4 linked regions of the Homo sapiens genome follow. The protein of the gene in region 1 interacts with the protein of each later gene in a pairwise test. Each region holds a gene or a part of one and is shown on either strand. Other genes may lie near its edges. The genes, in order: VMA21, DAGLA, YIPF1 and THSD7A.

The links.
Region 2: the proteins of VMA21 (region 1) and DAGLA interact in binary tests that used the Homo sapiens proteins (3 or more experiments, as listed by UniProt).
Region 3: the proteins of VMA21 (region 1) and YIPF1 interact in binary tests that used the Homo sapiens proteins (3 or more experiments, as listed by UniProt).
Region 4: the proteins of VMA21 (region 1) and THSD7A interact in binary tests that used the Homo sapiens proteins (3 or more experiments, as listed by UniProt).

The regions. Positions count from the first base shown.
Region 1 is NC_000023.11:151,400,201-151,407,225, reverse strand, and holds part of VMA21 (vacuolar ATPase assembly integral membrane protein VMA21), read right to left. Parts: intron 3,596-7,025; coding exon 3,486-3,595; intron 2,311-3,485; coding exon 2,168-2,310; 3' UTR 1-2,167. UniProt on the Homo sapiens protein: Required for the assembly of the V0 complex of the vacuolar ATPase (V-ATPase) in the endoplasmic reticulum.
Region 2 is NC_000011.10:61,675,504-61,683,405, reverse strand, and holds the start of DAGLA (diacylglycerol lipase-alpha), read right to left. Parts: upstream 3,016-7,902; 5' UTR 2,902-3,015; intron 2,595-2,901; exon of another isoform or gene 2,574-2,594; intron 904-2,573; exon of another isoform or gene 806-903; intron 1-805. UniProt on the Homo sapiens protein: Serine hydrolase that hydrolyzes arachidonic acid-esterified diacylglycerols (DAGs) to produce the principal endocannabinoid, 2-arachidonoylglycerol (2-AG).
Region 3 is NC_000001.11:53,872,773-53,879,797, reverse strand, and holds part of YIPF1 (protein YIPF1), read left to right. Parts: intron 1-1,075; coding exon 1,076-1,156; intron 1,157-1,395; coding exon 1,396-1,483; intron 1,484-7,025.
Region 4 is NC_000007.14:11,633,183-11,640,207, forward strand, and holds part of THSD7A (thrombospondin type-1 domain-containing protein 7A precursor), read right to left. Parts: intron 3,780-7,025; coding exon 2,948-3,779; intron 1-2,947.

The sequences.
Region 1 (7,025 bases):
TGCATATGCCCCTGGTTTAAATACTTGCAGAAAAATACCCATGTATCATCACCTATTCAGCAAATGCCTGAAACCAAAACAATAATCCAACATTGGACAGTAACATTTTACAAACAGCATAAGATCCCAAAAGCACAAGAAATACCTTGGCATTATATAAAAAGAAATTAGGTGGACAATTCTAAATACAACAATACTTCTTAATTAGGGACCATCTAGAAATCTACCACATACTACCCTAGACTCAAATGTCATTATACTAAAATTGTAGTCTTTAAGCAAGAATTAAAAACAGTTCCATAATAATCATACTGATCTTTCACTTTTCTCAACAGTTAAACACAAATGCTATTTGACTTTTATGACTAATCATCCCTCTATTCCTTTAGTCCAGTTTCACAACATAAAAAATAAATGTGAACAACAAATCGGTAATGGTTTCACATACTTAAGCAAGAATCCTAGTATTAGGATTATCAGTAACAGAAAATTTGAATTTTAAGAGAATAAAGATAGAATGTGCTTATTTAGAAAATGGTCAATAAGGCCGGGCGTGGTAGCTCACGCCTGTAATCCCAGCACTTTCGGAGGCCGAGGCGGGTGGATCACCTGAGGTCACAAGTTCAAGATTAGCCTGGACAACATGGTGAAACCCCGTCTCTACAAAAAAATACAAAAAAAAATTAGCCAGGCGTGGTGGCAGGCATCCGTAGTCCCAGCTACTTGGGAGGCTGAGGTGGAGAATCACTTGAACCCAGGAGGCAGAGGTTGCAGTGAGCCGAGATTGCACCACTGCACTCCAGCCTGGGCAACAGAGCAAAACTCTGTCTCAAAAAAATAAATAAATAAAATAAAGAAAAAGAAAAAGAAAATGGCCAATAATCACTCATCTGAAAAAAATGCAAATAGCTGTCAGGAAAAGCTGGCAGAATTTGAACTTGTAAGCTAAACTTTTAGTGTGTATCAAACTAGCATTAAGGAATGGCTTTCAAAAATGAATACGGGATATCAACTAAAATAGAGGTTATTTTTAGATGGCAACATTATGGGGAATTTTGATTTTTTTTCCTGTTTGAATATGTATTTTTCCAGTTTTCTACAAAGAACATATACTATGATTTTATAATTAAAAAACAAATACTTGTGGGAGTGTTTTTAGATTGCACATAATTAGTACCAAATAACTAGAAAGAACACAGACTAAAGATACGAAAATAAAATCAAGGTTTTTTTCCATCAGATATGCCCAAGGAGAATACTTTTTGGATGAAAAAAAAATGTTTTCCAGATTGTTTCCACTCCTAACATATGCAAAAATGAACATATTTAAATGCAAATTCCTATCATATACACTACAATTTTAAAAAATAGTAAAAAAAACAATTTTAAATGGAGCTTCCTCGAACCTTTTAATTGAAGCCTAGCTTCAATGTTGAATGAGGAAGCAAAGTATCTCATTAAAAAGTTGGTCTGCAAAGCACAAAGCTGGCCTGCAAGGGGACTTGAAGGAAGCAGGCTGAGTGTTTGAGTAGTGAGATCTTTGCTTTGCTCTTTAGATCCTTCAGTAAGCTAAGGTCCTTTTACCTGAATGGATGTAATTTAGCCTAGTTTTCCCATAAAATAATGTAATGGATAATTCTTATTGACTAGGGATTACACTTCATGTGAAATTCCTCAGTGACATTCAGATTAATTCCAGTGTCCACAATTTAAGCAACTTTCCATAGGAAATTAAAATCCCAAATCCAAGGACCTGGTATTTTCATGCTAAAGAAAGCATTCCAGCGTAAAGTGGAGTTTAATTTGCTTCACTGTGTGCATCTTAATATATCCAAATGAGTAAAACTCAAAAGCAACCGTAAGTCAGAATACTATAAAACATGTTTTGTTGAAAGAAGATAAAATTCCTTCCAGAGTATTGTCTAATTAAATTAACATATTTCTTTGTAACTAACTTTTCCAAATTCTCATTTGCAAATCAGATTCATACAGTTAAAACTGAATATACAAACCAACATATTAGAAAGATCAAAATTTACATACTCAAACGTGACTCCTTAAGACTGACTTTAACATGTTCTTTCAACTTTATTCAAATCAGATGGCCCCCTCCAGCATTTATCATTTTAAAAAATGAATTTAATGCTATAAAAAGGTGATGTTCACTTTAATCCTGTTTGCCTTCACGCCACTGTCGTGAGCCTTCATTCCAGGCCACATACACAAAGAGGGCCAGCACCACATGGACGGCGACCACTGCAACAATAGCAGCGTAAAAATAGCTGTCCCTATTGGACATCCCAAGGGCGCCTATCAAGAGAAAAAAAACAGTTTCCATTTTATTGCAAAATTTACCAAAGTACAAAAAAAAAAAACAAAGCATCCTAATTTTTATGATGTATTTATTTAACTAGTCAGGCAATTAAAAAGTAATATTTTGGGTGGTAATGAATAAAGTATTCACTAAAAGATATGAGTACCTTCTATATATTAAGAACATTATGTTGGCCGGGTGCAGTGGCTCACGCCTGTAATCCCAGCACTTTGGGAGGCCAAGACGGGCAGATCACGAGGTCAGGAGATGGAAACCATCCTGGCTAGCACCGTGAAACCCCGTCTCTACTAAAAATACAAAAAAAATTAGCCAGGCGTAGTGGCAGGCGCCTGTAGTCCCAGCTACTCGGGAGGCTGAGGCAGCAGAATGGCGTGAACCTGGGAGGCAGAGCTTGACGCGAGCCGAGATCGCACCACTGCACTCCAGCCTGGGTGACTGAGCGAGACTCCGTCTCAAAAACAAACAAACAAACAAACAAACATTGTTTTAAACAAAACCATAATTATAAAGACTTCAGGCCGGGTGCGGTGGCTCACGCTTGTAATCCCAGCACTCTGGGAGGCCGAGGCGGGTGGATCACCTGAGGTCACGAGTTCGAGACCAGCCTGGCCAACATGGCGAAACCCCGTCTCTACTAAAAATACCAAAAATCAGTCGGGTGTAGTGGCGGGTGCCTGTAATCCCAGATACTCAGGAGGCTGAGACAGGAGAATCGCTTGAACATGGGAGGCGGGGGTTGCGGTGAGCCGAGATCGCGCCATTGCACTCCAGCCTGTGCAACAAGAGTGAAACTGTCTCAAAAAAAAAAAAAAAATTTCAACATCAAAAAGGGGACTTCATTCTCTCTTCCTTCCGTTATCTGACACTAAAGTCCATTCCCCCAAAATTCCTCCTCCCATGTCAGCCAACCCCTATTCTTTAAAAGGTACTAAGAGAAAGGATTTGCAAGCTATTTCACAGAAAACCATAGGAAAACTGTCAAGCTGAAACAATAAGTTATTTCATAAAGACTCATTATGAGCAATATGATTTTTTGAAAAGCTAAACAAGAAAAAAATAAGAATACCCAGTTTAAAGATATAAAGAGGTCATAAAAGCACAGAATCTTAAATTGGGGGAAAACATCTTGTTTTAATGGGTCTAAGATTACCTTCAAATATGTAAGATTTAGTTGTGAAATATAACCCAATAGGAACAGTGATCATTAAAGCTGTGAAGAACAGGAGCGTCTTCAGTGTAGATGCTAATGAGCTTTCATTTCTGGAATAAAGTAAACAAAGAGAAAATCAGAACCTGCACAGTCATATCCAAACGCTCTTATGTCCCTGAAACTATAAACATCCACAAATGAGATGCTATGCAGGAGGAAGATCACAGGCAGGGACTCGTAATCCGAAGATCCTAGAGAACCAGCTGTGGGTAGTGGGAATTTCTTGAGCTGGAACATGAAGATTATACACCACCTTTAGGGACTGTCATTCATATCCAGTGTAAGACGAAGCGTCAGGGCACCTCAGATCAACTGCCAACAAGCTGGGTGAACAAACTAAGTGAAGAAACTCAGTGCCCCTGCCTCTGGAACTGGAGCTTTTACCCAGGGAAGCCACGGCGGACAGCGGCACCAGTGCCCAACCCATGCGGCAACCGTGTCCACCAGCACCAGACACCAGAGCTGGGAACGCAGCAGGCACCATGGGTGGATCAGCGCGCCCTCTTTTGCTGGAATCAGAGCTTCCGTCACGGGAAGCGACCAGCTTGCTGTCCTCCAGCATGAGACAGTGGACCAGGGAACTAACGAGGCAGACACACCTGTGCACCCTCCCACACTGGAATCAGAGCTTTTGCCCAGGGAAGCCACTGTCACACTGGTCCCTGAGCCCACGCAGCAACCCTGACCACCAGCACCGGACACCAGACCAGGGAACTCGGCAGGCACCACAGGTGGAGCAGTGTGCCCTCTCCCGCTGGAATCGGAGCTTGCATCTGGGAAAGCTGCCAGCCTCCTGTCCTCCAGCACCAGACAGTGGACCAGCAAACTAACCAGGTGGAGCCGACGCACCAGCGTGCCCTCCCCCACTGGGATCAGAGCTTTGGCCCAGGGAAGCCACTGCCACACCAGTCCCTGAGCCCGTGCAGCAACCCTGACCACCAGCACCAGACACCAGACCACTGAAGGAGGTAGGCAGGGCGAACGGACCAGTGCGCCCTCCCCAGCTGGAATAGGAACTTCTGTTATGGGTGAAAAATCGAGCTAGAGGGAATACTTCCAAACACGTTTTAAGAGGCTCCAATCACCTTGATACCTAAGCCAGACAGACACAGCAAGAAAACTACAGGACAACATCACTGATGAACACTGGTGCAAAATTCCTCAATAACATATTTTCAAACCAAATTCAACAATAATCAGGCCAGGTGTGGTGGCTCACACCTGTAATCCCAGCACTTTGGGAGGCCGAGGCAGGCGGATCACTTGAGGCCAGGAGTTCGAGATCAGCCTGGCCAACATGGCAAAACCCAGTCTCTACTAAAAATACAAAAATTAGCTGAGAGTGGTGGCGTGTGCCTATAGTCCCAGCTACTTGGGAGGCCAAGGCACAAGAATCCCTTGATCCTGGGAGGCAGAGGTTGCAATGAGCCAAAATCACACTCCAGTCTGGGCAACAGAGCAAGACTCTGTCACAAACAAACAAAACCAATACATCAAAAAGATTATATATTATGACCAAGTAGGATCATCTCAGTTGATGCAGAAAAAGCACTTGACAAACTTCCGCATCCTTTACTGAGCTGAAAAAGAAATCAAGAAAACAATCTCATTTATAATAGCATTAAAAAAAAATACTTAGGGGCCAGGCTCAGTGGCTCATGCCTGTAATCCCAGCACTTTGGGAAGGCTGAGGCTTGAGGCCGGGAGTTTGACGCAAGCCTAGGTAACACAGCAAAACCCCACCTCTACAAAAAAAAATTTTGATAATTCGCTGGGCATGGTGGCACGTGCCTGTAATCTCAGCTACTCAAGAGGCTGAAGTGGGAGGATTGTTTGAGCCCCAGAGGTCAAGGCTGCAGTGAGCAGTGATTGGGGCACTTTACTCTGGCCTGGGTGACAGAGCAAGACTCTATTTCAAAAAAAAAGAAACTTAGGAATAAATTTAACCAAGGCGATGAGTGACTTGTACACTGAAAAGTATAAAACACTGATGAAAGAAATTGAAGATGACACAAATAAATGTAAAGATATCCTGTGTTCATGGATTGGAAGAATTAATACTGTTGAAATGTCTACAGCACCCAAAGCAACATACAGATATAACACAATCTCTATCAAAATTACAGTAGCATTCTTCATTAAAATAGAAAAACAATCCTAAAATTCATCATACAGAACCACAAAAAGCCCCAAATAGCCAAAGCAACATTGAAAAAGTTGTAAGCATCACACTTTCTGATTTAAAATATTACAGTTATAGTAATCAAAACAATATGGTATTGGCATAAAAACAGAAACATATAACAATGAAACAGAATAGAGCCCAGAAATAAATCCAAACATATATGGCCAACTAATCTTCGACAGGGGTGTTAAGAGGAACACAATGGGGAAAGGACAGTCCCTTCAATAAGTGGTACTGGGAAAACAGGATTTCTACATGCAAAGAAAAAAACTGGACTCTTACACCATAAACAAAAATCAACCCAAAATGGATAAAATAACTAAAACATAAAGATATAAAGTTTTAAGACATAAAAGAACACAGAGGGAAAGGTCCTTAACATTGGCCTCAGTAATGATTTTTTGGATATCACACCAAAAGCTCAGGCTACAAAAGAAAAAATAAAGCGGCTTGCATCAAACTAAAAAGCTTCTGTACTGCAAAGGAAACAATCAACAAAATGAAAAGGCAGCTTACAGACTAGGAAAACATATTTGCGAACCACCTATCTTGTAAGGGGTTAATACCCCAAAATTTATAAAGAACTCTTACAACTCAGCAGAAAAACCACCTGATTAAAATATGGACAACAGCTGGACAGACATTTCTCCAAAGACATAAAAATGGCCAAGAGATAAATGAAAATGTGCTCAACATCACTAAATCATCAGGGAAATGCAAATCAAAACCACTATGAGATATAACCTCACACTTCTAAGGACAGCTATTATCAAAAAGGCAAGTGATAACAAATGTTTGTAAAAGTGTGGAGAAAAAGAAACCCTACTACATTGTGACTGGAAATGTAGACTGGTACAGCCATTATGGAAAACAGTTCCTAAAGAAATTAAAAATAGAACTACCACACAGCCCAGCAATCTCTCTTCTGGAATATAAGCAAAGGAGATGAAATCACTACCTCGTAAAAATATCTGCACTTCCATGTTCATTGCAGCATTATTCACAATAGCCAAGATTTGAAAACAACCTACGTGTATGTAGACAGACAAAATAAAGAAACCGTAGTGTATATATACAAGGGAATATTTTATTCAGCCTTAAAAGAGGACATCTGCCATTTGCCACAACATGGATGGACCTGGAAGACATGTTAAGTAAAATAAGCCAAACGCAGAAAGACGAATACTACATGAGCTCACTTATATGTGGAATCTTTAAAAAAAAAAAAAAAAGGTCAACGGTCAACTACACAGGGACAGAGAATAAAACAGTAGTTACCATGGCGGTGGGGGTGG
Region 2 (7,902 bases), on another chromosome or scaffold:
GGAGCGGGTGAGACAGGCCATGGATACCCCTCAGACCAACATGGGAATGACCAGGGAAGCACCTGCAATGCTGGACAGTGTCTGCGTGGCAGCTACGGGGACAGGGCGAGTCCATAGCATGGAAAAGTCAGCTCACAACCCTGGGTCTGGGAGGGCCGTGTCCTCCTTCCACCCACATGGCTTGACACTGCAGCCTGGGCACAGGGCAAAAACTTTCCTCGGGGAGCAAGGATGTGAAACAGGTTGCTGGCTAAGGCAGACACCCGCATGGAATGCTGAAGAAACGGCCTGGGTGAGAGAAAAACAGGACTTCCAGCGCCATGGGGCAGGGTCTGCAACTCAGGCTCTGCAGCTTGTTGTCGGGAATTAGGCTCCTGGTGGCAGAGAGCAAAGCACTGTGCAGCCACCCTCATCCTCCCCACCTGGGAAGGCACTTCAGCCAGAAGTGGGGCCACATTGGGAGAGGTGCCACACCTGTCTGCCCTCAGAGGTGCCTGTAGCCCCCTTTCCTTTCCCCTATGTGTCTGAGGGCATCCTCCACACCTCCCCCCCCCGTCCCCCTGCCATCCAGCCTCAACCTCCCGCAGAACCATCCAGACCTGAGCCACATCGATCTGTGGATGCTCTGACCCACTTCATTTCCTTCAGGCCACAGCCCAAAAGACGCTGATGTGACTGCTCCCCACCCCCGTTCTCAGAACCCAGAGCCAAAGGAAATTCTCCAGAGAAAACACACACACTTCCCAAGTCTTCCTCCCACACAGGTACCCTAGATCTGTCAGCCACAGACACCTCCCAGACCTACCCTGGCAATGAGGCACGTCTGCTGCCCAAGCAAAGTGCTTCCTCCTGCTTGGGCCACTCCTGCAGGACTTCACAGCTGCCGGGGCCATGCTCAGGACTGTCCTCTGGAGACCGGGGGCCTGGTTCCAGCTCAGCAGCTGACTCACAGTGTCAACAGATCCCACTTGCCCCCACCGGGAGCATGTGCGCTCAGGGCCTCTAATTCCCTATGACAGGCCCTCAACCTTCCGGCTCCCTTCCTCCCAATCACATCCCGTGCCACCATTTCCTATGGCTCCTGCCTCCAGCCCTGGTCTCTTTACTTGATGAGACTCTCTGACCTTTGTACAGTCTTTCGCTGTTTGCAAAGTGTTTCCACGTGCACCATTTCCTTTCATTCTTTACTACCAGACCACCATGTGACATGCCTTGATTGGTGAAGTCACCTGCTGAAGGTCACACAGCCAACACTGGAATTAAAGTGATATGGCTCCAAAGGCATCGGACAGTGCTCCGGTTATAGGGAACTCATCAGCATCTCCAAGCACCCACCTTGGCAATTTGGCGACCACCTGCCACCCTACCCTCAACATCATCTTTTTGGACTCATAAGTGCCTTCCCCAGCACAAGCTCAACCCTGTGATTCTTCTACCACTGATCCCACTCCCCCAAGAGATCCACAAAGAACTGAAGATTTCCCCTACACTGTAAGACTTCTCTAGGAGGAGCTGCAAATTGCTTCTCTGTAAAGTAAGGCACTAGGTGATGCTGAGTGAGACCTTCACCCAAAGCTTCCCAAAGGACTGGTGAGAGCAAACACAATCTCAGCGCAGATGGAGGGGTTTTAACATAGGAGCTAAGCAGAGAGGACAGACAGAGCCCTTGGAAAGGAATTTAAGCCTGGGGGTGGGAGTCCCGGTGGCCCCAGCAGATTCCCAGTGGCTGCAGAATCATCTTTCAAGCATACCCCAATCGATCCAATCCTCTGGACCCAAAGGCTCCCCAGCATCAAAGAAGAGAGGCAACTCCCAGATACCCTGGAGTGAACCCATCAACCCAGGGAGAAGGCAGGACCCCGTGACTACAGATAGATGGTGCGCCATACCACTCCCTCACTCGCTGACCCGGGTTACCTCTTGGTCCTGCTTGCTTCTCAGGACATATTCTGGGACACCGATCACCACTGAAAATCATCCACCCCTCCCTTCATTCCCAAAGCTAGATGAAAAGCTAGATGAATGGTTCTCTCTACCTTAGCCCAGGACAACGGTAGTGCCTGGAAGGTCTCTATCTGGGTTACCATCAGGGCCCTTGTGGTAGAAGCTTCTCCTGGCATCTCTTGTTTATGCCCATTATAAAGGACACCAACCTTCTCCCAGCCTTCTGCCCTCCTCAGTCCAGTGTACCCAACAGGCATTAAAACTGGACCCCCATGACAGAGGCAGTGTCCCCTTCATCGCCCGTGAGGAAGGATGGGCATTTACCCTTCCCATTCATCAGGATGGGAGGGCCACGGACTCCCCCCGCGGCAGTGCCGGGTAGCCCCCCGCACCACACCGTGCCAAGGCCCTTTCTCACAGTCATGCCAGGAACTCTAGCCATGCTGAGAACACCAATTCTTCAAGCCCCCAGTGCTATCACCCCAGATCATGTCAAGCCCAAGGCCAGAACCATCCCAACACCCAAGCAATGGCAGCACTTCCTCACACCCATGCTAGCGGCACCACCATGCCGGCACGAGCTGGCCACCTATCCCATAACCAGTCCGAAGGCCGTGCCCATCACCTACCTGTGCAGACAGCTGCACCACCTCACACCTGCGTGGCCACCACCGCACCAAGGTGGAGGCGAGTCTTCTGAGACCCGTTCCAGGAAAACCACGCCGCCTGTGCCGGACCCACGTTGCCCACGCCCGTGCCACGCGTGTCACCATCCCCACGCTGGTGCCAGGGGCTCCACAGACCTCACACCTGCCACGGGCGCGCGTGGCAGCTGCAACTCCGCCCGCCGACCCGTCGGGCCGGCCACCGCGCGCCCTGGACACTGCCCAGCCCGCCGCGCCGCTCGCACCGCGCCCGCGCCCAGGACCGGCCCGCCGCGCCGGAGGCCCCCCTTACCTCCCGCCCGCCGCAGGGCTCGGCCCGCCGCCGCGACCGCCACCTCCATCCTGGGCTCCCCAAGGCCCCGATTCACTAACGCCGCTTCCGCAGGGCGCCGGCGCCGGCGCGAAGGCCGCCTCCGCCCCCCGGGGGACGCTGCGTCCTTTACGTAAACCCCTCTCCGCCGCCAGCGGTGACCATGGCGACGGTCGTGGGGAGGCAGCGCCCCCTGGCGCCAGGGAGGGGAGCGGCGTCGAGGCCAGGGAGAGCCGAGTCTTCCGCGGGCGCCGGCCCTGCGCGTGGGGGCGGTGGGCGCCTGGCTCAGGCTCGGCTGGGGTCCCGTGGGCGGCCGGGAGGGGCTGGACTGGCCGCGATGCGTGCGGGGAAGGGAGCCGCCTGGGTGCCTGCCCCTCCTTTAGGTCCCTCGTGACCAGTTTTAGCGTGGGAGAGGGAAAAAAGGAAGTAGGATCACTGGAGAACTGGTTCATTTGTGGGGAGGAGAGAGACGGGTCCCACCTCCTCGGGGTGACTGAACTCTGCTTGAGAAGTCAGAGCATGGCTAGAGTTCCTGGCGTGACTGTGAGAAAGGGCCTTGGCACGGTGTGGTGCAGGGGTCTACCCGGCACTGCCGTGGGGGGAGTCCGTGGCCCTCCCATCCTGATGAATGGGAAGGGTAAATGCCCATCCTTCCCCACGGGCGACAGAGCCCGTGGGTACCCTGGGTACCCCCTCCTCCCTACCACCCCCCCACCCCCCACCCCTACCCCCGTTCCCAGTGCCCAGCATCGTGCCTGGTCTCCAAAGGGGTTTACTTGGTCAATTTTGAATTTCTGGTAAATGAAGAAAACCGCCCCTCCTGTTCCCCTTCACGCCCTTTCATTCACCGTAAGTCGCTTACACCTCCCTGGGAGCACTGTGCTGAACTGGGGGAGTGGAGCACAGAGAGGAGCAGAAGGCGGGCCCTGACTTCAAGGAGCTCATTCTGCTGGGGAGGAGACGCAGATGGAGGGGGTTTTAACACAGAAGCTAAGCCGAGAGGACAGACAGAGCCCTTGGAAAGGAATTTAAGCCTGGGGATGGGAGTCCAGTCTGCAGGTCGGGATGACTCAGCTGGGTCCCAAAGATCCAGTAAAGATTCATCAGAGACAAAAAGGGGAAGAACGTTTTCTTTCAGGCAAGAGAAGTGCCTCTAAAATGTTTCCTAGGCCCTGTTGCCACCCCCAAAATCACAGTGATCGCGCAGTTCAGTAGAAGTGGGAGCCATAGGTGAACAAGGAGGTGTGGGTAGTGGGGTGCCCGGCTTGAGCAGAAGCCTCGGTCTGAAAATTACGTGGACATTTGGGTTGGAAATGAGACTGTGAGGCCAGGACTGCCTTTTATTGAAGCAGATGGAGCCACTTCTGGAAGGAGTTCTGTGTTACCTGTGATTATTTAGAAAGCAAACTCACGTAGGTAACAAGGAAAATGAGGAGTGGGCGCATATACCCAGTGGGGCACCTCAGGGGATTCAAGGAGGAGTTGAATTCCTCAAGGCTCAGGAAGGGCAGAGATCAGGGGAGGCTTTAAGGGACAACTGTAGCAGTATCAGTTTAGGGATCTTCTTTCTAGATCATTGCCATTAATCAGAATCAAAACTGCCAGATTGGATGTCTCTTGGTTCAAAGTTCCCGATTCCCAGAAAAAAAGAATCTTATTAGTCCAGATCAGGCCACGGTCAATCAGCTATGGCCAGGGCAGAAAGTGCTTTGTGATACAAACATGTCAGTCCACTTTTCCCCGTTGAGAGACACTCCCAGAGGAGGAGAATCATGACCTGAACAGCCAGTCCAAAGACTGTCGGCCAGGGGCGGTGGCTCATGCCTGTAATCCCAGCACTTTGGGAGGCAGAGGCAGGTGGATCACCTGAGGTCAGGAGTTCGAGACCAGTCTGGCCAACATGGTGAAACCCTATCTCTACCAAAGTACAAAAATTAGCCTGGCATGATGGCAGGTGCCTGTAATCCCAGCTACTCGGGAGGCTGAGGCGGAAGAATCACTTGAACGTGGGAGGCAGAGGTTGCAGTGAGCCGAGATCGTGCCATTGCACTCTAGCCTGGGCAAGAGAGCCAGACTCCATCTCAAAAAAAAAAAAAAAAAAAGGCTGTCTACTACGGATCCATCCCTTAGCTGTCCCATGTACACAAACTCACATGTGTCCATGTGCACACATGTGTCCCGACACACGCCAGTCCTTCTTCCCATTCCTCCAAAGTTGTCTTCACCAGACAAGTACCAACAGTCACCTTCACACTTGATGTCATGAGGCTACTATTATTTCAAGATCTTCAAGGTGATTGATCCCATCTGGTCATTTAACTGAATTAAAGGGTTACTTTTACCATCACCAAATCCTTTGAACTCTTGCTACTCAGAGTGAGACATTGGCACCACCCAGAAGCTTAACGGGAATGCATAATCTCAGGCCCAAGAATCTCAGGTTGGCAACAAGATTCCCAGGTGATTTGAATGCACATGAAAGGCTGAGAAACACCACTATTATAAATGTTAGGTGACCGGGTGCGGTGGCTCACACCTGTAATCCCAGCACTTTGGGAGGCTGAGGCGGGTGGATCACCTGAGGTCAGGAGTTCAAGACCAGCCTGACCAACATGGTGAAACCCCATCTCTACTAAAAATACAAAAATCAGCTGGGCATGGTGATGGGCACCTGTAATCCCAGCTATTCGGGAGGCTGAGGCAGGAGAGTTGCTTGAACCCGGGAGGTGGAGGTTGCAGTGAGCCGAGATCCCGCTACTGCACTCCAGCCTGGGCAACAGAGTGAGACTCCGTCTCAAAAAAAAAAAAAAAAAAATAGGCCCAGCGTGGTGGCTCACGCCTGTAATCCCAGCACTTTGGGAGGCCGAGGCAAGCAGATCACAAGGTCAGGAGTTCAAGGCCAGCCTGACCAACATGGTGAAACCCCGTCTCTACTAAAAATATAAAAATTAGCTGGGTATGGTGGCGCGCGCCTATAATCCAAGCTACTCAGGAGGCTGAGGCAGGAGAAGCGCTTGAACCTGGAATGCGGAGGTTGCAGTGAGCCGAGATCACGCCACTACACTCCAGCGACAGAGCAAGACTCCCTCTCAAAAAAATACATACACACATAAATGTTAGGTGAAAGGAAAAGGAAAGATAACAAAAACATTTTCAAATTGTGATTCATATTTTCTTAAAGGGGGAAATGGTCAACTATTTAATCTTCAACAACTCTAGTAACAAGCAAGGAAAGACAGGGAGGGACTGCAGTCTTTATTTTTGCAATTGGTCACAAACTCCTAGAAGGTACTAGCGAATTCCATCCTCTAACGCCTTATTTCTGTGTTCTGCAGGTCTCCTGCCCGATTCTTATTCAGTCAGGATTCTTTGCCTGACAGACTGACCTAAGCCTTCTTCTTGAGGGCTGAGCCATGGCTGTAAGGCATCTCAGCAGGCTTCCAGCAACATCGACCACTGGGTACAATGATGTAAGAGGTCCTTCACGGGGGTGTGGGTTCTACCCATGGTGTGTGTGTGTGTGTCTGCGTGTGTCAAAGATCCCCAGATGGCCAGTCCCAGTTTCCAGTGGAACCACAATGGTGCCTCCTGATGGATTTGCTCCTCCCTTCCATTCTAAAACCACCAGACACACAATCAAAACCCAGAGCCGCCTGCACAGGAAACAGGCATTTTGATGAGAGAGAGGGGCACCCTCATCACTTCTATTTCTAGTTCCAAGACGCTTTGGAAGAAACATATCAGAAAGGGTGGCTGTTCCAGAGCACACACTCCCCACAGACCTGACCTGGTCCAGCTACCAGAGGTGCATCCTCTCCACGCCAAAGCCATGCCTGGCCTTCTCTCTGAGCACCTTCAGGCCCAGTTCTGACAGCATTTGGCCAGGTGTCTTTGGAGATAGTCACCAGCACTGTGAGCAGACAGGAGCTGGGGAGGAGGACAAGAGCGAGGGCACCAGAACAGACAAGTCGTAGACTGGTCCCAGTCCAGCTGTCAGGCTGTGCTCCCTCCGCTCTGTGCCAAGTTCCCACTCTGGCCTCAGTTTCCTTCTGAGTCCCAGTGGGGATAATAACATGACTCTTCCTCCTGCGGGGCTGTGCAGATTAACTAATTAATGAGTGTGACAGCGTCTGCATCCACAAAGGGGCTGATTAAATGCTGAGTGTTGTTATTAGTAGCTGTGGCAGTTGTGTGACAGGCAGTTGGCTGGAGACAGATCTGCCCCCTGCCTCCTCCCCATGGAGGACCCAGATGGAAGGGTCCTCCATCTGCCCCATGCTCCGCAAGCCGAACATCTTGCAAGACAAAGCCAGGATGATTTTTAGCACCCCAAAGACAGCATAGAACTTTTGCGCATTTCCCCTGTGCTGGAATGTGAGTCACAGCCGAGCTTCATAGTGTAATCTATCTCCGACAGCTGGCACAGCTGTACCCTGCCCCAACTCAGCTCCCAGCAGCTGCAGGATGGGATGGCTTGGTCAGTAACTGCAGTAGGGTAGAGCTGCCTGCAGAAAGACAACTGCAGAATTCCTAAGCTGAGCACCATCCCCTGACTGTATTGCCCTGTGGAGGCAGGGATTGAGTGACCACCTTTCCTCACTGCCTGAGATAGTGGGAGCCAATATGACACCTTGGCTAAGCAGTCAGGGGAATTCAAAGCATGCAGGGTTTTAAAGTATAAAGTATCTGCTCATGGCCGAGGGAGATATAGTGACTATATTTTAGCTTGGCTGCAGGGTATAGGATAACTGGATGAAATCACAGCTCTGGGGCATGATAGCTTTAGCCTAGCTTATTCCCAGACGTAGAAAGTCCAGAGAGGCCTCCGAGCTAAACAGTGAATGTGACTTTGCAATACACAGCCCTGGATCCCGTAGTATGTGTGAGGTCTGTTGCCCACCCCTCCGATGCTGGGTCTTCCACCCTTGAATGTGATGAGTGCTGGTTCCCACCCTGAGTCCTGATGCATCTGACGAGGTGGGT
Region 3 (7,025 bases), on another chromosome or scaffold:
ACCGCTTTCACTCCTCTCTGTGAGTGCTGCAGACCACAGCTACTTCTAATCGGCCATCCGTTTTCCTTTATAATGAACAAAAAATATCTGCCTATAGCACCTGCCCTTGTCCTGCAAAGCAGCTCAGTGTTCACCGTACTTTTTGCTGTATGAATTCCCTTCGGATATCTGAAGATGACAGGCACAATTCCTGGCATTGGGCATGCATTCTGCCACCAAAGAGCTGTGTTGTTGGGATGGGTATGGCCCTCCTCAGGTGCCTCTTCTCAATAGGATTTTTTTTTTTGTCAGAGTAGTAATATTTTTAGTACTTTAGAGTGAGTCAATATATCAGATTTTTGAGAATTCAGGTGGCAATAGTAGGGAGGATTGTGGATGGATGGGGGAGGAAGAGATATTTACACTGCTGGATGCAGTGGCTCACGCTTGTAATCCCCGTGCTTTGGGAGGCTGAGGCGGGAGTATCACTTGAGCCCAAGAGTTTGAGACCAGCCTGGGCAAAATAATGAGACTCTGTCTCTACAAAAATTAAACAATTAGCTGGGCATAGTGGTGTACGCGTGTAGTCCCAGCTGCTTGGGAAGCTGAGGTGGGAAGATTGTTTGAGCCCAGGAGTTCAAGGCTGCAGTGAGCTATGATTGCACTACTGCACTCCAGCTTGGGAAAGAGAGTGAGACGCCATCTCAAAAAAAAAAAGCGAAAAGATATTTACACTGACTGCCTTCTGTATGTGTTGTATGTGTGTATATGTATTTATTATTGTACATAATTCTATATACTGTTGAATCTAGATAAGGGAACTAAGCCCAGCAGGAGTCTAGTGATTTGCCAAAGCTCCCCTCAGTGGAGGGGCCAGGATTTGAACCCTTTTGGTGTGACTTCAAAACCAATGCTTGTTTTTCTAATCAGGCTGAGAGTTGCGAATTGGCTATTTCAGAGTTGGTTATTGAATGTGGAAGAGCCTATTGTTTCAAACGTTTTGCTTTTCCATTAGATCAGATCCCTCCTGCACCCCACGCAGCTGGAATTAAGAAATTGCTTATGTGTTCATTATGTTTTATTTTATTTCTGACAGTTACTTGCTGGACAGAAGAAAAGCTCCCCCTTCTGGACATTTGAATACTACCAAACATTCTTTGATGTGGACACCTACCAGGTTTGGAAACCAATTTCACCTTTCCTTTTACGGGTAAAGGAGACTTGTTTCTTTAATGGTTGAACAACCAAATAATGTGAAAGCCTTTATATACTGAAAATGGTCTTACAAAAGTAAAGGGTTATTAGCATTTGAAAATACTATCATAAAAGCTCTAATGACTGAGTTTCAATTTTGTAGTAGTTGAATTTATTAAACTTAAAAAACTTCAGTAGAATTACTGCTATGATGTTTTCCAGGTCTTTGACAGAATTAAAGGATCTCTTTTGCCAATACCCGGGAAAAACTTTGTGAGGTTATATATCCGCAGCAATCCAGATCTCTATGGTATGTTTAGTACTGATTTGTTTACCGTATTTCAGTTGAACTTGGGTGAGTGTGAGGGTTGCCTGGAAATGTGGAGAACTGCACTATTGGTGGGGCATGCCATGTATTATTAGACTTTTCTGAACTTCAGTAGCAACCCTTGCAAGTAATTTTGGAGGAATACAATTATGTGTTATATTAGTGCCACGTCATCATTACAAGTACTAGTATATCCTTCAAAGGTCTTTAAATGGGGCTGAGCGCAGTGGCTCATGCCTATAATCCCAGCACTTTGGAAGGCTAAGATGGGAGGATTGCCAGAGGCTAGGAGTTTGAGACCAGTCTGGGCAACATAGCAAGACCCTGTCTCTACTAAAGGCTGGGTTGGCACAGTGGCTGCCGCCTGTAATCCCAACACTTTGGGAGGCCAAGGCAGGAGGATTGCTTGAGCCCAAGGAGTTTGAGACCAGCCTGGGCAACATAAGGAGACCCTATCTCTACTAAAAAATAAAAATAAAAAGAATGATTTTTAAAAATTCTTCAAATAACTTTACAACTTGAGACAAATTTAGTCACTTTGACTAGGTGGAGATTGGACCATTTGATGTTGGAGGAGAAGGTATTCTCACACTTTTTCATTGATATGCTGAGTTCCAGCTCTGCCCTCAGATGAGCTGGCTCCTTTTAGGATTTGGTCACCAGCAGTGGAAGTCTAAAACAGGATTGGGCCGGGGATTGTTGTCATCCCTGACCTTAATGCTGTCTGAGAAAAACTCAGAGGTCCACCCAGTACTCCTGAGGAAAAGGCCCCAACAGTGGCCTGTGTTTGAGGGGAGAAGAGAGTGCTGTCCGTGTGCCAGGTGCTGTACCAAAGACTGTGTGTGTACTTGATCATATCTCATTCTTGCAACAACCCTTGCAAAGTATCCCCACTTTTCAAATGAGGAAGCTGATGCTCAGTGAGGATCATTGATATATATGCTCAATCAGAAATGATAAATAGTAAAGCAGTCATATATGTTGATTTTAAATATGGACTCTAGGGAGCCTGGTGTGAAAACCATTGCACTGGCCCATGCTTTTCATCTGAGGGTTGTCAGGGTGGTTTCTCTGTCTCATTCATTCTTACTTGTAGCCTGAGAACATCCTGAGGGGCAGGCTCTGTGCCTCAGTGTCTTTAGTGCCTGGCAGAGGCCTTGGCACACAGCAGGTGCTCAAACAATTTTTAGCACCTTATTTTATGCTAGACTCTGTGCTAGAGGCTGAGGATTTAAAGATAAGGCCATGGTCCCTAGCCCCAATGAGGAAGAAGAGAGAACACTAACATCTGTTGAATACCTTATAAGTGCCAAGCGTGGAGATAAGCACTATTTTAGTATTTTATGCTATTTTATTTCCCATACTCCAAGGTAGCCTTATCTTACAAAAGAGAAAACTGAGATTAAGGAGATAACTTGCCCGTAGTTACAGAGTTAGCAATAATAATGGCAAACACACATATAATGCTTATTATGTGCCAGACACTATTATTAGGGCAGTACCTGTATTAACTCATTTAATCCTTATGCCAGATCCAACTTCATGAGGGAGATACTATTATTATCCCCATTTTATAGATGAGGACACTGAGTCACACAGAGGTCCAGTAACTTGCCTGAGATTATACAGCTAGTAAGTGCTGGGCTCAATTTTCAAATCAACACTGTAGCTCATAATCCATTTCTTCATCACTATGCTATACTGCCTCTCATGACAAAGCCAGGGCTTGAATCCAAGGCTTGCTTCTTTTCTGTGACACTAGTAGCCTCATTAGCTCATAGACGTGGTTAAAAGAAGAAGGTACAATATAGGTGAAGTGTTTGATAGCAGAGAGGATTAGGTTTTGTTGTGGGTGGAGGTTAGAGGAAGGCAGTTAAGAAAAAGATGACAATTTACAGAGTGTAAGGAAAAGATTGATAACTTTGACTACATTTCACCTAAAATTTAAAATTTCTACACAACAAAATAAACCATAAGTAAAGTAAAAAAATAAACCACAGACCAGGGGACATACTTCCAATGCATATAACCAACAAACAGTGAGAAACAAGAATATATGTCGAACTCCCACAAATTAGAAGAATAAACCAAGCAACTCTGGGGAAAAAATTGCCAATAAATATATGAAAAGATGCTTAGCCCCACCTGCAACCAGAGAAATAAAAAGTAAAATAAGATTATTTATGCTCATTATTTTAGTAAACATACACAGTTTGGCTTGTCTTCATTTATTCATTCAATTCATTCAACAAACATTGAGCTCTTGCTATTGTACTGGAGATACAGCAGTGAAAACATAAAAATCTCTACCCTTAGGCAATTTTTAATTTACTGAGCTTAACAATAAGCAAAGAAAAGTAAAATATATAGTTTTCTAGTAATGAATGCTTAGGTGAAAATTTAATAGCAGAGAGAAGAAGGACATGAAGTGTTTGTATAAATGGGTGAATTTGAAAATTTAAAAAGGTGAATTTTGAGTAATGACCTGAAGTAATTGGGAGTGATTTATGTAGATATCTAAGGGAAGAGCACTTGAAACAGAAGGATCAGCAAGTGCAAAGGCCCTGAGGCAAGAGCTAGCCTAGTACATTCAAAGAACCTCAAGAGGCTATTGCGACTGGATGAGAGTGAACAGGGGGACCTAGAAGGAGATGAGGTGAGAGAGACAGTGTGGAGGGACAGGTAAGGTCTCATAAGTCACAGTGAGGACTTTGGCATTTGCTTGAATGCAAAGCCATTGGAGAGTTTGGACAGACGAGTAACATACTTTTTTGTTTTTTGAGACTGGGTCTTGCTCTGTTGCCCAGGCTGGAGTGCAGTGGCTCGATAATGGCTCACTGCAGCCTCAAAATCCTGGGCTCAAGCCATCCTCCCCCACCTCATCTTCATGAGTATCTGGGACTACAGGCATGTGCCACCATGCCTGGATAATGTTTGTATTTTTTGTAGAGACAGGGTCTCACTATGTTGTCCAGGCTGGCCTCAAACTCCTGGCCTCAAGCAATCCTCCTGCCTTACCCTCCCAAAGTGCTGACCTTACAGGCATGAGCCACTGCCCCAAGCCAGGAGTGACATACTCTAAGTCAGATTTCATGAACATTGATATTAAGTGTGGCCAAGGATATGGAGCAGTGGAAACTTTTGTATGGTAGGTATGTAACTGGTGGGTATGTAACTGGTACACAAATTGGAGCAGTTTGAAGATGCTTATACCCTATAATTCAGCAGTTTCACTCCTAGGTAGATAATTTTAGAGGAATTCACATATATATGGAACAACATATAGAAGAATATTATCCACTGTAGCAGTATTGCTTGTAATAGCAAATATTTAGAAACAACCAAGATATCCATCAGCAGGAGAATGGATACATTGTGCTACTATATTTATACATGGAATTCTGTAGTTAAAAAAATGAATGAGAGCTAAAAGCATAAATATAGATAAATCTTAGCACAATGATTTTAAAAAGCATGTTGTGGAAGGATATGAATAGAATGATACCATTAAAAATATATATATATTTTTTGAGACAGAGTCTCACTCTGTCACCCAGGCTGGAGTGCAAAGGCGCAATCTCGGCTCACTGCAACCCCTGAGTCCTGGGTTCAAGTGATTCTCCTGCCTCAGCCTTCCCGAGTAGCTGGGACTACAGGCATGTGCCACCACGCCAGCTAATTTTTGTATTTTTAGTAGAGACGGAGTTTTACCATGTTGGCCAGGCTGGTCTCAAACTCCTAACCTCAAATGGTCTGCCTGCCTCAGCCTCCCAAAGTGCTGGGATTATAGGTGTGAACCACCATGCCCGGCCTAAAAATATTTTTTAAAAGTGACATGCTAGGTAACCAGTGTTTGTGTTATTCTTCGTGCTTTTCTGTATGTTAGAAATATTTCATAATATAAAAATGCATAATATGAAATTTTAATTATAAATACAACCTAAATTAAGGCTCTCTCCCACCCCCAACCCATAATAAGAGTAGGAATTTGGCAGGAAACGGAGAAGGCAGTATGAAGCAACATGGCAGGTCCTGGGATGAGTGGGTGTCGTAAGTCTCTGGAGTCCAGCCTTCCACTGGGGGTAGCTGGAGAAGTTACAGAGCCCAGATCCTGGGGCCTTTTATATCAGCCTCAGGAATTAGGATTTTGTCCTTAAGCAGTGGAGGTTCAGTGAAGGGTTGCAAACGGGGGAGAGGGATGATAATAGGAGAGGGACAAAAATGCTAAGGGCTGGGAAAGTTATCTTGCTTGTGTCCAAGGATGAGCATTGGGCCACATAGAGGTAGTGGGTGGGCAGGTGTTGGACCTTTCAGGCCACCTGAAAATATTGTTTCTCCAGCTGTTCCCGTGCCAGAGTTGTTAGGTAGCTTAGAGCATGGGGCAGCTAGAGAATGCTAGATAAGTCTTCACATTAGTATACATATCTTCCCATACCAGCCTGCCTTTAAAAAAGTTAATTAATATTTTAGTGAAAGGGTTTCATCATGTTGCCCAGGCTGGTCTTGAACTCCTGAGCTCAAGTGATCTGCCTGCCTCAGCCTCCCAAAGTGCTGGGATTATAGGTGTGAGCCACCGCATTCCCCCCCGCCCCCACTTTTTTTTTTTTTGAGATGAGGTCTTGCTGTGTTGCCAAGGCTGGAGTGCGGTAGCTATTCAGAGGCATGATCATAGCTCCCTGCTGCCTCAAACTCCTAGCCTCAAGTGACCCTCTCACCTCAGTGTCCTGAGTAGCTGGGACTACAGGCTTAAGCCACCAGGCCCAATTCACAGGCTTCCTGTTGCCCTCAAGATAAATTCCTAACTCAACAGGGCTTCTAAGACCCTTCATGATCTGACTCTGGCCCATCTCTTCAATCTCTGGCTACTCCTGACCTGAAGCTTGGCCTCGAACTGGTACCTCTTACTTCAGTCTCTGCTCCTGCTATTCCCTCTTCACGGACCTCTCTTCTCTTCTGTCCTCACTTGGTGAACTCCTGTTCTTCTTTAGATCCCAGCTTACACATCCCTTTCTCTAGGTTTTCCACCTTCCCTATATGCTCCCATAGGCACCCTGTACTACCTTCTGAGATTAGATATTTTATTGATCGTCTCCCCGGAGTGCATGGGTGCACTAGAGGCAGTGACTGTGTCTCTGTTGCCCATCATCGTGTCCCCAGCAGAGGGTAGTGGGTACTTAGTAAATAATGACTGAGAGGACATAATATTCTTGGTTTTCTAGTTATTTGGGTATTGTAAGTTAATATTTTGGCCACTTGTGGTCATACCCTTGGATGGTCTCAGCTCATCTATAACACATGGTCAGATTTATTCATTCAGTAAAGCTTTTTGGCTATAGGGGCTTTGTGGGGTTTTTTGTTTGTTGTTGGTTTTTTTTGCCACTCTTATGTGTGGTCACTCAGAATAATACTGTGAGATTTAGTCCTTGTCTACAGCAGAAAGCTTTCAGTCTAGTGAGTAAAGAGGCAGTTTGTGGAGAGCTAATATTGGTGACTTTTTGAAGCATACCCATTTGATTGCTTGTGT
Region 4 (7,025 bases), on another chromosome or scaffold:
CTTTAACATCTTTGGTTTCTTGGAGAAACACCTGGTATACTTTCATACCATCTCTTGGTCCTGCTAAGATTTCACCCAGCCTGGCTGGAAGTCACTGGTTTACAGGGAAGCTTCCTGTGTCCTAGTGTATGTGTAGTGATTTAGAATTCTCTTCCACTAGTTGTCAAAACTTTAATCCCTCAGTCTGTCAAACTGATAGTCTTTTGTTGGCAATAATAGCATAGTGGGCTTCCTGCCTATTATGCTATTCTGATTTCAAGCAGAACTCAAGTATGCTTCAGCAGCCCTTTTCATTGACACAGACCATGTCATGCTAAGGAAGTGTCATTGGCTTGTCCCCTCAGAAAGTTCAGGCTACTCTTAGAGATTCTGAGTGTTCATGAAAGCTGTAACACATAATGCCCTTCTAAGTGTCCTCCCTAAGTTGTGTCTAATTTTACCACATTAGCCAAATTTCTGTATCAACTGTGGTTTGGGACTGTAACCGTTTCCTGCTGTCAGAATAGAGTTTCATTTGTGTTTTTCATTCTTATTGATTTTGGTCTATTGGAAAGTGGAAAGCAGGGCAGATCCATCATTGTTAACTTAAACATTTGAGCAGTAATTCTAAAATTATTTTTGTCTATGATCTGCCTCCCCAGATTCTTGGTTTTATTTAGTTAAACTTATGCAGTTACTATAATGTAATTTTTAGCCATATTAAATTATTTTTATTCTCCTACATGGTAAAATTGTTTCTGGATTTAATAGAAGCTAAAACATTTTAAATTTGATCACTAAGTTCTTGATTTGTGGCCCTGTGCTTTGGTGATGTCATTGATTCACTCTTCACTTTATTGGCTTCACTGATATCATGGTATAATATCTGAGCAAAACGTAGGTCAAAATATCTGATTTTTATCTCTTCTTCTCTAGGACTTTCTTGATCACACATGATAATTCATATATAATAGAAATATTCACAGCCAATATATTTAACATAAAGTTTAACCTATACTGTAATAAGTCAGAAAATATATGCAACTATCAATTTATTGGAAGTTATATATGCTATTTCTAATGGGATACAAGTTCCTGACAAATAAACTCTGCAGTTTTAAATATGTTTGTTTAATTCAAACAACTGGATGAGAATATTAGGCTCTATGCAATGGTAGCTACTAACCTAATTACACTTTTAATTGAGTAGTCAACGTTAAATTAAATGTCTACAGCATGCTAACCCAGTGATAGCAGGAAACAACTCAACTTGTCTTGGAGACTCATTCAATTATTTGATGTCAGCCAAGTAACTAATATAACTGTAATATACTTCAGGAAAAGAGATAAGAAAATCACCAGAATAAGGATAGTCAGAAAAGAACAAAATAGGAATTGAGTTGAAAATATACATGATACAGAATCAGAGGTACACACACACACACACACATACACACACACACATTTAAGGAGTTGTAGGAAACCTGGAGAATGAAGGCAGAACAACAGCCTTCATTCAAGGCCACAGGACCAGAACTAGAATGGAAAAAGGGCAAATTACCGTACAGCTGAAATAAAATGCAATCGTGTCAATACAAAGAGGGGAGAGAGTAGCAAAAATTCCAAAAAACAGTAACCAGAACTCTATGATGAGAGAAAGTTATTGTCTTAGACAGACCAATCAATTTTTGTTTATCTAATTAAACTATATCCTTTTCCAAAAACACTTTAAACCAGATTTCAAAATCTATGCATAGCAAAATCAGTAGACAAGAATAGATTGAAAAAAAAATCAGGTGAGAAAAAAAATAAAGCTAAATAAAGCTAAAGATATGTTAATAAACAACATGCATGCCACACAGTCCTATTTAGGTTCTTAACAGAAGAAGTTAACATGCAAATGTGGTCTGTTACAAGATTTCCAGAGGCCATAAGAAAAACAATCCAGCTGTTCACCAGAAGCGCAGAGGTCGAAACTTCAGGGAAATTTGTCTTATATGTTTTTTAATCAAGAGAATAGACTGTGTGATAGAGTTGATGACACTTTCAATATCATTTCTACAGTAAATCTGATATACAATTCTTACTGATGTTACTATATTTTTTTCAGTTCAATCCAAATCATAACTGCATAAATATTTCTGAAAAAGCAATTATGCAAATATCCAGATAAGCCACTCCCAGATGGTCTGGTTTATCCAAGAGCAAAATTCAAAATACCCAGAGAACATCATGTCTTTCAGATAATCCTCAATGAAAATTATTTTCACAATAAGTAAATCATACATGAGATAGTTTTTCATAATATAGTCATTATGTACCCAAAGATAATTTGTTAAATAATTTCTGTCTAGAAAATGAAGCTAATTAGTTACATGTTTCCTGAATGAGGCTACTCATGATTCAATACCCTCTACTTACCTTATTTTTGGCTGGTTGCTGTTTCCTTCTCTGGAGGGAGTTATTCCATTATATACAATGTGCAAGAAAATTATTCTTAGGTATAGCTCCCTGGGTTGTTGTTTAGAGCAGATTTTGTTTATAGGGTAATTCTGAAAATGCTGTCTTGGAGAGATTACAACTATGCCTTTTTCTATTAGCTCACTAAAATAAGTATCTGAATTTAAAATCCCAATATTTCAGCCCCTAAGCAATTTTTTTTTCTATTATAGGGAAACGACACTGTCTACACATAGAGAAGAAGCAGTATCTTTTCATGAAGAATTGCTCATGCTCCAGACTTTGAAAGGAAAATCAAAATAACTCAAGTAATACAGGGCCTAAATGTGGACACAATAGAAACAACACCGAGAAACTCACACAAGCTCAGAAGCCTTAAATTTGGGGGTAGCTCATCCTAGGTTGTGCCCCTACGTAATCCAGAAGTTATTAGATAGTACCGGATATCTTAGGTACTCATGATTCTTGACAGACAAGCCTGTGTAGTTAACAGTAATTAAAATGTTACCTTAAATCAGCAGCTTTCCCCGTCTTGTTAATGCACATAACCTCTCTGGTCTGATATCCAATCTGGATGTCCCAATATTTGTTCTCTTGTCTGTTCTGCCTGTTTCTGTTTCTCTTTTTCTTAATAAGCTCGCGGGCTTCTGGATCCTTTACTCCTTTGCTGCGGTCCTTTTCCCGTTCTTTATTCTTCCCGCGTCTCCTTGCTTGTCTTACTTGTCGGGAGTGGGGCATTGAGCAGGTGCTCCAGGGCCCCACATGCAGGCTGTACCTGAGCTCCTCGGCCTCGCATGGACTGGATTGGCACACCTGGAACTCCGTCAGGTTTGGACAGCCAGAGCCTCCGAACTGCGGGGGCGCCACCACATGACGCGTCCGGTGCTGGAGCCCGCTGCCGCAGGTCTTGGAGCATTCGGACCAGGCAGAAAATTCAGACACGATGCAATCTTGCTGGCAAGGAATGAGGCAAGCCTGCTCCAGGAGAGGCTTGGGCTCAAAGTACTCACAGATGATATCCTCCGCAGGAATGTCTTTGTCTTTCTGGATGCACGCTATCTCCCTCACCTGAATACCTTCTTCCCCCTTAATGCACTCAAGAGGTTTCTCTAGGCTTTTTGAAATCACGGGCTGACACTGATTCCAAGGTCCCAGTCTCCAGTCGTACAACTCTTTGTGCCAATCGCAAACTTTGAAACAATTCTGCTGGTTATTGGGTCTCTCGGCCTGCTTACAGTTAGTATGCAGTGTAGTCCATCCCTCCACATGAGCACACCACACAGCCCTCGTTTGGATGCCTCCGGGACCACATTCATCTCCCATACATCGGCCCCATGGACCTACAAAAATTATAACACAAAAATTAGCAGTGCTACTAGAAGAAAACTACAAGTTACTGCACATTCCAGAAAGACCTTTCAAGACCTAGTACATTAACTTCCCTGCGGTGTTACAAAGTAGGTCTCTGGACACGACTGTTGGAAAGTAATGATCCTCGCTAAGTATTTTTGCAAAAGGGGAACTGTGTCACAGAGTCTATATAAGGTAACTTCTGGGACAATTTCACTTTGGGTCCTTTAGGGATTACGAAAAGTTTGGTTTTGTTCATTTCCTTTGTTTTAGGTAGTTAGAAATCCTTGCTGATAAAGGACATCAGAAATTAGTCACAGTGAAAACTCATTACTCCGGCCTCACAATCATCAAATCCATTTCAGTAACTGGCAAAGAAAATGGCCCCGTGTGAAGAACTTCTCCTGCAGGCATTTCTCTTCCTGGACAGTTAACTATTTTGTGGAACTTGCTCTCTTCTTCAACATATTTTATTTTCATAGACTATGACTGCAAGGGTCTAATAGTTGTATATCATGTGTGCCACTAGAGCTTAAAGTGTTCACTCTCTGGTTATCAAAACTAAGAAGCAAAAATCTTCATTTACACACATTCTGCCTTTAAATTTACCAAATTTCCCCCCCATTTCCCAAGTGAAGTATAGAGCTGGGTAAGGGAATTTAAATGTAACTAAAAGACTTTTGCAATTTTCTAATCATTGAGAGGTTATTTGGGGTCTTATTTATTTATTCATTTCTTAAACATGAACTATTTGGTATTACAGAGCTGTTTGATGTGATACTTAAATCAGTGGCTTTAATATGAAATATGGGTTTTTTTCTGTGAAATCCTTCTTAGAATAAACTTTATATTCACATATATTATTTTTTTCTAAGGTAGATGATATGATTTTCAGTACTTTAATAGACAGATCCCAATTTACGAAATTGAGAATTGTATTATTTTGGAATCATAAAGAAACTTAAAGTTCATGTAAGTACATGATTTTCAAAAAGTATTCCATGAATTTGAGAAATTGTTTGATGTGCCTTAAAGCCATTTTCCATCTGTTGTGTGGGAAGGTGAGGGCCAACATGTGGGGTGGGCTCTAGTGCCCCTCACACCCTTACACTACTGTCGTCCTCCCTGATTGATGCTTTTATAAGAAAAACTCTATTTGTATTATTAGTTTTATTCACATGGGGATTATGCATAAGATTATGTCTGCAAGAGGTTTCTACTGTGGAAATTTGAAACCTGCTAAAGTAGGTCAATGGATTCGCTCTACGGATGAGAAAAACAGGAAACAAGAAGGGAAAGTGATTTGCTGAGTTCAAATATTTAATGAATAACAAAACCATTCTGGATTTTAGATTCCAGTTCCAACTTTTAGTTGTATGATTTCTCTTGGACATTAGAGCTTTAGCCTCAGTTAGTTTCTTCTGTACATAACAATTGCTAGTATATGAATAAAGAAATATAAAGAATGTGCCTATCATATTTAATCTAAACATTTAATTTTGCTTAATGAGAAAGATGTTTAAAGTTTGTTGAGAATTTCCTTACAAATGGCATTATGGAGTTGTAAATAGAATAGAGACTTGCTGTAAATATTGTGCTAACTAATCATTATTGCATGAAAGTAAATATTGCATAGTTGGCATACCCGTATCATTCCTTTATGAAGTTTGCATGTACAAAATTATAAGGGATGTAAAATGCTCATGCTTATTAGTGATGTAACATTCTTATAAGGGATATAAAATACTCAAGGAGACTGGGAAACAGTCTCCTTGAAGTATGAATGTTGAAACTTTATGGGAGAAAGCCAGTGGGTTTGTTGCATCTGTCAAAATGCAATCCACCTAATAATATTTTAATCTTATTTTTAACTTGCCAAAGAAAAAATATATATTCACAAATCTGGTGATACTTTCTTAAAGATTTTTCTAAATACTCACTTTGGGAACCACAGAACCTAGGAAACTTCTCAAAATGAGAACCCAGTAATATGTATAAAATTTTCTAATTAATTCCACACATCCTTGGCATTTATTCCCCATCCCCACTGTGCTTGAACAAAACAGTGGTCCTTATTTTCCATCTGAACACAACATATAAAGACATATTTATATCAGACTCTCAAATTAAGAGTAAACTATATGCCATTAAGTCTGAATTTGAAAATATAAGTGTCTTATACTAAATCAGACTCTAAATCCCAGATGTAATTTAGTTGAACTTCCTGATATATTATTTTTTTCCAGTTTTTAAAATTAATTATGAAATTAGACTGACTAATCAGATTGAGGCTACTAGTCTTTTATCCTCAGAGTGTAAACAAATGATTTTTTATAGCAAACTTATAAGGGTGTCACTTAAAAAACATAACTGTACATTTTTAGGTAGGCAGCACTATTATTAATAGTTGTGATTGGGCCGGGCGCTGTGGCTCATGCCTGTAATCCCAGCACTTTGGGAGGCCGAGGCGGGCGGATCACAAGGTCAGGAGATCGAGACCATCCTGACTAACACAGTGAAACCCTGTCTGTACTAAAAATACAAAAAATTAGCCAAGCGTGGTGGCGGGCGCTGTAGTCCTAGCTACTCGGGAGGCTGAGGCAGGAGAATGGTGTGAACCCAGGAGGTGGAGGTTGCAGTGAGCCGAGATGGCACCACTGCACTCCAGCCTGGGCAACAGATTGAGACTCCGTCTCAAAAAAAATAATAATAATAAATAAAATAAAATAGATGTGATTTACTAATTAACACAAATTAATGTTTTATTATAGAAATCTGAGTACACAAAATGTGAATTGACTTCAAGTCTATATGTTATTGCTAAGGAAAACACGCATACTGAAAATAACTTTTTTTCCCTAAAACAACTATGAAACAGAACTATGCTACACTAGTCAACTCTTAAGTCTGAAAATTACCTTAGACAAGATAAGGACTGGTGAAGATATCAAACTCTTACAAACCAAATTTTAGCAAAAAATCTTGGCTTACTTCTAAGTTCATTCTAAAATAAAAGTAGAAGATGGTTGCTTTGAAAATGATTCATCATTTACTGACATCAAATTATGGAGAGCTCCCTTTTTACACACTTCCAGAGTACCATATATGTTTCTCACGTAATGTTTAAATGTTAGTCACACTTTCGGTTAGTAGAATCAGTAATTTTTTCAAATATTTAATATCTGTTTATCACATTAGACTGACTCTATAGCCCCTTGAGGACAGGCCCTTGTCTG